Linked DNA regions of Homo sapiens: all the other regions are linked to region 3. Evidence: fine-mapped expression QTL. A gene starts in region 3. Each other region holds a variant in brackets. All regions are shown on one strand. Distances are between the middles of the regions. Region 1 overlaps ARID3A (AT-rich interaction domain 3A). Region 2 overlaps ARID3A (AT-rich interaction domain 3A). Region 3 holds the start of ARID3A (AT-rich interaction domain 3A).

The links. PIP is the estimated chance that this variant, and not a neighbour inherited with it, causes the effect.
Region 1: its variant is fine-mapped to the expression of ARID3A in whole blood (TOPMed, PIP above 0.99).
Region 2: its variant is fine-mapped to the expression of ARID3A in blood mononuclear cells (TOPMed, PIP 0.97).

Annotation. Positions count from the first base shown.
Region 1 is chr19:970,199-972,943 of GRCh38, forward strand. ARID3A (AT-rich interaction domain 3A) reads left to right here. Exons shown (of 9, transcript NM_005224.3): 9 at 1,680-2,745. The coding sequence ends at 1,867. Among named protein-coding and RNA genes, the nearest start is that of WDR18, 13 kb to the right of the region's middle. The variant G/A (reference allele first, on the strand shown) is at 1,751.
Region 2 is chr19:974,021-976,749 of GRCh38, forward strand. It overlaps ARID3A (AT-rich interaction domain 3A), which reads left to right. Exons shown (of 9, transcript NM_005224.3): 9 at 1-1,919. Among named protein-coding and RNA genes, the nearest start is that of WDR18, 9.0 kb to the right of the region's middle. The variant T/C (reference allele first, on the strand shown) is at 1,385.
Region 3 is chr19:925,017-927,767 of GRCh38, forward strand. It overlaps ARID3A (AT-rich interaction domain 3A), which reads left to right and starts at 1,019. Exons shown (of 9, transcript NM_005224.3): 1 at 1,019-1,043. RefSeq lists silencers at 59-988, 1,079-1,148, 1,569-1,808, 1,796-1,988 and an enhancer at 1,193-1,953.

The DNA of each region.
Region 1 (2,745 bases), 45 kb after region 3:
GCTGCTTAGGAGGCTGAGGCAGGAGAATTGCTTGAACCCGGGAGGCGAAGGTTGCAGTGAGCCGAGATCGCGCCACCGCACTCCAGCCTGTGCAATGGAGCAAGACTTCGTCTCAGAGGAAGAAAAAAAAAAGAATTAAAAAATTTAATTAAAAAAGTGGAGTCAGTGCCAGGGGCAGTGGCCCACGCCTGTAATCCCAACACTTTGGGAGGCTAAGGAGAGAGGTTTGCTTGAGGCCAGCCTGGGCAACACAGAAGACCCCATCTCTACAAAAGAACATAAGTAAATGAATAGTTTTTCTTTTTTTTTTTTTTTTTTTTTTTTTTTGAGACAGAGTCTCACTCTGTTGCCCAGGCTGGAGTGCAATGGCATGATCTCAGCTCCTGCAACCTCCGCCTCCTGAGTAGCTGGGATTACAGGTGCATGCCACCAGGCCCGGCTAATTTTTGTATTTTTAGATGATACGGGGTTTCACCATGTTGGTCAGGCTGGTCTCGAACTCCTGACTTCGTGATCTGCTGGTCTTGGCCTCCCAAAGTGCTGGGATTACAGGCATTAGCCACCACACCCGGCGGTAAATGAATAGTTTTTCTTAAAGTGGAGTCAGGCCGATGGTTCATAGTGGCCACCAGGTGGCGCTGTCGACACAGAGCAGCCTTGTTGCAGGCCCCCGCCCGGCTGTGGTCAGAGGCTGAGCTGAAGGTCAGTGGTGTCCTCACAGGTCCACAAATGGATTTTTGAGGGGTCCGTGCCCTCCGGAAATCAGATGTAAAACGTGTACATTCATATTGAATCTTACAGGGGAGAAGGCCAACTGTGTGCTAGGGGTCTCGCAACCCCACATCAACGAACCATGGGCATCAGGGTTCTCCCTGCAAGAGCTGTGTGCACGCTGATGTGCATGTGTGGATTAAACACACGTGTGTGCTCACGTGCATCCATATATATGCACATGTGTGTGATGAAGGAGTGAGCAGACACAGTGGGGAAGTTTAAGCTGGGCTCACGTCTGTAATCCCAGCACTTTGGGAGTCAGAGGCAGGAGGATTGTTTTAGGCCAGGAACTTGAGACCAGCCTGGGCAACATATTGAGAGCCCATCTCTACAAAAAATAAAAAATTGCTAAAATATTGCCAGCCACAGTGGCTCATGCCTGTCATCCCAGCACTCTGGGAGGCCAAGGTGGGTGGATCACCTGAGGTCAGGAGTTGGAGACCAGCCTGGCCAACATGGTGAAACTCCGTCTGTACTAAAAATAAAAAATTGGCTGGTGTAGTGGCAGGCGCCTGTAGTTAGTCCCAGCTACTCAGGAGGGTGAGACAGGAAAACTGCTTGAACCCAGGAGGTGGAGGTTGCAGTGAGCCAATATCGCACCACTGCACTCCAGCCTGCGCGACAGAGCGAGACACCATCTCAAAAAAAAACAAAAAAATAAAAAATTAGCCAGACATGGTGGCACGCCCCTGTGGTCTCAGCTACTCGGGAGGCTGAGCTGGGAGGATCACTTGAGCCCATGAGGTTGAGGCTGCAGTGAGCTCTGATGCCACCACTGCACTCTAGCCTGGGGGACAGAGTGAGAGAGAAGTTTATTCCCCGGAGCACCCCATTGGGTCTCCCTTGTGGCCCGCCTCGCATCTTCTTAAACTCTGCATGGCATATGTCTTCTGTTCTTGCCTTAGGAGTTCTGTTTGCTCAGCCGCCGGCCCCCACGCCAACCTCTGCTCCCAACAAAGGAGGCGGCGGCGGCGGC[G/A]GCAGCAGCAGCAACGCAGGCGGCCGGGGAGGAAACACCGGAACCAGCGGCGGCCAGGCTGGGCCAGCGGGGCTGTCCACACCCTCCACATCTACCTCAAATAACTCGTTGCCTTAACCGCATCACTCCCCACCCGCCACCCACCCTGGAGCCCGCCGGCCTGGGCAGGGGGTCCAGGTGGGCCACACAGGGGCCAGGATGGCGGAAGATACGGGTGGGGAGGGAAGATATCCAGAAAGGAGCCACAGCTGACGCCAAAAAGAAAAGAAAAAAGATATATATATATATATATATATATACACGTATATATATAAAGAGAATTTAATAAAACAGGGGAAAACCAAGGAACACTTGAATTTCTCAGGTTTTGGACATTCAGAGAGATGAATTGTGAGAACAGCAAAGAAATCCATCAGAAAAACAGAAAGAGGCAGACGTTTCCCAGGGCGTTCAGGCAGCCCTGATGGACCGAAGGCTCTGGTGTCTGGTTTGGCCCCACAGCAGTGTGGGCCGATCCTGTTTACCTCATACATCCCTGCACTGTGTGTTTTCATTTTTGTCTGCTTTAGTTCTCTTTTATTTTCTATTCACCACACACTCACCACTCCCAGCTTCTCGTGTCCAGTGAAACCCCTGAACCAAGATCACTGAATTTTTGTTTTTTTCTTGTTGCTTTGGGAAATTTTTTTTTCTCTGTAGGGTTTTTAAGAGGTTTCGGGGGTTTTGTTGTGTAAATATTCTATTTTATTCTTGGGGGGATCAAACCTTAGGAAAAGGATATCTATATATCTATATAGCTATATATTTGTGTTCCTTCAGGGAAACTGGTCTTGAAAAAGCAAGAAAAAAAAGCAAAAAAAAAAAAAAAAAAAAAAAAAAAAAACTCACCTTTTTATTTTTCCCATGACCAATTTGGGTCCCTTTGTCCATTTCTGGGGGTGCGTTGGGCAGCTGTGAGCCCAGCACATCGGATCCCTGGGGCTAGAGCCGCGGAG
Region 2 (2,729 bases), 49 kb after region 3:
GGGTCTCTAATTGGGCCCTGGGAGCCCTGTTAGGCCACCGGCATGGGGGCTTGGTGAGGAAGGGGACTCCCCAGCTCCCCCCACTCCCAACCACCTCCCCATTGCCTTGGAGACCCCTGGGGAGGGGGCTGGGGGGCTTCTGAGCCCCTGAGTCTAGGTTCACTTTCCCGTCGGGCTGTGGGAGGGGACTGTCACTTTCCTGTGTCTTTGGGGAGGGGACCCCCACTTCCTTCTCGGATCTCAGGGCCGTGGACACACACCCCCTTTCCAGGAGGGGGTGGTGGGCGTCTAGGTTTTCCTTGTCCCTTCCTGGGGCCAGCACCGTAGCAGCACAATCACCCCGGGAAGGGGGTGTCTGTTTGCCTCCAGACACAATCGGGCCCCACTCGCAGAACCACCTGGACTCTGTCCGTGTCTGTCCCCCGGCCTCCAGGGCTCCTCTCCCGGGACCCCCGTCCCACGCCTGGGCCCCGCGCCGGGGGAAGCGCCTGCTGCCTATCTCTGTCTACCTCAGGTCTGACTTTTGATGCCAAAATCTGAGCCCCTGGGGTGCCTCTCCCCCGCCTCCCGTGCACCAGGGTCTGCAGCAGCCACTGGGGCCTGGCTGCCTGCTGCATCTGGCGGCCCTGGACCCCTGGGGCCCCCGTGCACCTGCCCACCTCGGAGCCTGGGGAGGGGCCGTGCAGGGTCGAGGGCTGGGTCGTCTCCCTCGGGCTGCGTGTGTGTGTCGGGAATCCTGCGTGTCGTGTCTGTGGGCGATCCGGCCTCCCGGCGGTGGGTGGACCTGGATTCTAACTCAGAGGACTTGAGCCTGCTGTTAACTCCGATGATTGTAGGGACAGGCGGGGTGGGTGGGGGGTGGGCGCGAGGCTGGGTCCCGGCCCAGGAGAAGGAAGTCGCTGAAGGCAGTGGCCATGCTGGCCGTGGAAATGGGAGGCGGTTGCAGAGGGTCTATGGGGCCCGGTCCTGGATACTCGGCAGGAAGCCGTGTCTGCAGAGGCTCCTCCCTGCCTCAGGTGGCCCCGTTCAACCCCAGCCGTGCCCATCTCCTGCCACCGCCTGTCGGTGGGGGTTTAAATTCGGTGTGGCTTTCTGGGGTGCAGCTCAGCACCCCCCCTTATGCAGACTGGGAGGGGGTCGGGCAGTCCCCTCAGCCACGAGGACCCTGGATGGGTTCTAGTTCACTTGGGACCGTGGGGCCTGGCTGCGTACTGAGTGGGTGCCCCACAGTCAAGGCCAACGGGGGCTCCCCCTGCTCTGAGATGTTGGGAGAAAGGCGGCTTCTGGAACCTTCCGTGGGACCCGTAAGTGGCTGTCCAGAAAGGCGGGAGGGTGGGCACGGGGCACGGGGGGCAGCTGGGGTCGTTGTTAAGGGTCACGCATC[T/C]GTACAGTTGAATTTCCTTTCTCTTATCATGTTTTACCCACCTTGTCCCTTTTTTCCCCAATTGTGCTTTTGCATTTTTTTCCTTGGCAAATGTAAACTCAGCCTTTCATTCATGACGTGTGAAATTTCAGTTTCTCTGGAGTTTGTCAGACGGCGTGGGAACCACGCCTGAAACTCAGGTAATAGGAGGAAAAAAAAAAAAACTTAAAAAAATTTTTAAAAAACATAAAACTACTCTCTACCTCTGGCTGGGCCCAGCCTGTCTCGCCCTGGCCGCGGCAGGGTGGCCTGTAACAATTTCAGTTTTCGCAGAACATTCAGGTATTAAAAGGAAAAAAAAAAAAAAAGACAAAAAGACCAAAAAAAAAAAAAAGTGTGATTTTGAAATTTAAAAGAACACTGAAAGTTTACATTTTATAGTAACATTATTATGCAGATTGTATTTAAACTTCAGAAATATTTAAGACGATTGTAACCCTGTAAAGCTGATGAGATATTAAAACGAGACAAAACACTTCTGACTTTTAACAGAAAAGTGTCCTGTGGTGTTTTTTTTCTTTTGGCGTCTCCCCAACCTCCAGCTCCACCCTACACCCCTGCCCAGCACAGCCAGGGGTGAGTGGAAGGGGGTGCTCTATCCCCCTCTGCCCTGCATCGCTCTAGGTCTGGTTCCGGGCGGCAGAGACAGCTACAAAAGCGGGGGTCTGGCCAGGTGCGGTGGCTCACGCCTGTTATCCCAGCACTTTGGGAGGTCTAGGAGGGCGGAATCACCTGAGTTCGGGAGTTTGAGACCAGCCTGACCAACATGGTGAAACCCCATCTCTACTAAAAATACAAAATTATCCGGGCGTGGTGGCGCGTGCCTGTAATCCCAGCTACTCCGGAGGCTGAGGCAGGAGAATTACTTGAACCCAGGAGGCGGAGGTTGCAGTGAGCCGAGATTGCGCCACTGCACTCCAGCCTCGGCGACAAGAGGGAAACTCCATCAAAAAAAAAAAAAAAAAAAAAAGCAGGGGTCCTCAGCCAGGGTCTGTGCCCCCAGGGGGACCCTGGTCCATGTCTGGGGGCATTTGTGGTTGTCACGCCTGGGGGGGCGCTCCTGGTGTGGAGTGGGTGGAGTCCTGGGATGCTGCTCGGCACCCTGAGTGCCCAGGACGGCCCCACCGCAGAGAACAATCTGGCGCCCAGCATCCACACTGCAGGAGTTGGGAAATTCTGCCTTCATTATTTAAGGTGGGGTAAAAACAGTTCTCCCTGCCCACAGCAGACACCAGGATAAGCTCCTGACAGGGCAGACGGTGTAAACCCGGGGGAACCCAGCTCCTGGGACTCGCCTCCTCTCTCC
Region 3 (2,751 bases):
GCTCGGTGCCTCAGTTTCCTGCTCTGCGCAGTGGCGACAAGAAGGTTGCCAACTACAGAGAGGAGTGAGGGCTGGAGACGTGCAGGGACCTCCCTGGAGGGAGGCGCGGGGCACGTGGTTGGGCAAGCGACCGCTCAGACCGTGTAAGTCATCACCACCTTCACGGGGGGGTGGTGGGCAGCCGAGCTCCCGACGCTGGTGACAGCCGGGCCGGGCAGGGTCGTCCTGGTTTCACAAAGGGGCTCCGGGTCCCAGCGCGCACCTCCCCACGCCCGCGCCGAGCCCCCGTCTGCAGCCCGTCCCTCCCCAGAGGGAGGCCGGCGGGACCCTGGTTCCCTCCCTCCGACGCCGCCCGCCCAGCTCTGCACCGGGTCTTTCAAGCCCATTTCTCAGACTTGGAAACGGCGGCTCCGGAGAGTGAAGTCACTCTCTCAGGGTCTCTCCGTCTAAGGGGCGAAGGTGAAACTCCGAGTCCACGAGGCCCAGCGTAGGTGCTCCGTAAGAAGGGAAGAGACTTGGTCCCGGATCTGGCTCCGATGCCTCCGGCCAGCCCGCCCAGGCGGAGCCCCAGTCAGTCCCCTCTTCTTCCCCCGGGGCGCTCCCGCCCCAGCCCCTGCCCCCGGCACCCTCTGCGCTTGGGGCCGCGTCGCGCACTTTGCCCACCGTCCCTAGGCCGGGGGCGGGGCCTCCCGCGGCGCTGTTCCCCTTCCCGTTTATTATTTATTATCCTTTAAAGGGGCCGCGACCTGAAAATTTCCGTCCACTCTGCCCGGCTCCCCAGCGCCCCCGGGCTGGTTGCGCGTCGTCAGACCGCGGGAGGGGGGCGAGGGGGCGTGCGGGGAAAAGTGGGGAGCCCTGGCGAGGCCCTCCCGCGCCCGGGCCGCGGCGCTGAATCACCGGCCAGGTATTTGCATCCGAGAGCGACTCGTCCCCTGGTGATTTGTCTGGGGGTGGGGGAGGGGCGGGGCGGGGGCCGGCCGCGCGCGGGGCGCCTCTTACCAATCGGGCGGAGGGGTGTAGACGCGGACGCGGCTGGCGGCTCGGTGAGTCGGCGCGCGGCACAGCCCCGTGGGTCGGGGGCCGGGAGCCAGCGGCGCGCACCGGCGGCTGGAAGCCAGGCGGGCCCGGGCAGGCCGACCCCAGGCGCGGGGCGCGCGCCCCACTACGAGCCGCCCTGCGCGGTAAGGCTGGGGAGCGCGCTGGCCGTTCCCAGCGCGGGTTCCGGTGCCGGGGTGGGCGCAGTGCGTCCTGGAAGCCAAAGAAGGGGGTCCCCAAAGTTGGGCGGAGATGTTGGTGGGGGTCCCGGACTGGGAAGGCGGCCCTGGCGGGCTGGGGTTCGGGGAGTTTTCTCTGCACCCCGCTTGGAGACTTCACTCCCCACTGGATCAATCGCTCAGGGGCGAGCAGGGGCGATCGGGGGTCGCGAGTGCGCGCCCCCCCCTCCCCAGCGGAAGGAAATGGTCTCTGCGCGCGCGCGGGGGGCTGCACCCCGATATTTTATTTCATTTTTATTCTTTCTCCCCGAAATCAGGGATTTATTCGGGAGCCCAGAGAGGAGGGAGGGTAGTTCCCGGCGAGCCTCCCCAGCCGGGCTGGTTTATTTATAAAGTGTCCGCCCCAGCGCAGAGAGGGGCCCCCGGGGGAGACACCGCGGCCCCCGGGCGCCGGGGTGGGTTGGGCCCGGGCGCCCGGTTCCTCGGCGGGGATACCCAGGAAGAGCCCCCTGACCCGTTTCAGGGCCCCCCAGACACAAAAGCGGGCGCAGGAAGCGCTGGGAGCGCGCGTTTGTCAACTCCAACGCTCGGCGCCGGCCCCGGGCGGCGGGTTCAATTATCTTCCGTTTTTAGGCGCTCGGGCTGGAGGGGTTCCCCCCCCCATGCAAATCGGCCGCTTTCCAAGAAGCCTTTGAAATCCGGACCAGGGTTTCTGTCTTCTTATTTCTTCTCCTTCTTGAGTTTTTTTCTCACTTCCTCCAGGCCCCCCCAACCCAGGACTTTCTTAGCCCCCTCCCCAGCTTTCTGCCCCGCCCCTCCCCCTCCTCTTCCCTTCGTGGAGTGAGGGGCCCCTTTCGCCACCCGCGGGCCCGGGGCCTTGCACAACTCTTTAAATAACCATGTTTTGCAAGGCCCGCGCCGAGCGGGTGACCTCTCTCCGGAGGCCTGGGGGGAGGAGGGTGTGGCCCAGGATCCCTCCGCCCCCCACCCCTGCCTGGTCCAACGACCACCCAGCGCCCCGTCCCAGCCTCTCCCTTGGGGCTGTCATAAAATGGGGGTGGGGGTCGAGGACAAAGGGCTCTTGGGGGGAGGGGTCTGAAGGGGGTGGGCGTAGCTAGTTTAGGGTTATGGCGGCGATGGGGGGGCACCCAGCCCTGACCTAGGGGGGAATCTGGGATCCCCACCTGCCCCCTCCACCGGCCCCAACGTGGAGGTCTGTCCTGCTCCCCTCCCCCACCCGGCGACCCGGAAGGGTCATTAAACCCAGCAGGGCTCGGAGCGGGCTGGTGGGGGGAGTGGCTTCCTTTGGCCTCTTCCTTCTGTGCCCCCAAAGAGGGGGGGCTTTGCTTGGAGCTCTTCCGTGGGGGGGGCCTTGTCTTGAAGTTGTCCCAGGTGGGGGAGGGGCGACAGACCCGACCAGACCCTGAGTCAGAAATGCCCCCTCAGCACTTTCTTGGGTTGGGTGGGTGGGGGGTGACCTCCAGCCTGGGGATGGGGGGCTGGGTGCCGCCCTGGTGGCCTCCGGACCGCCAGGCTC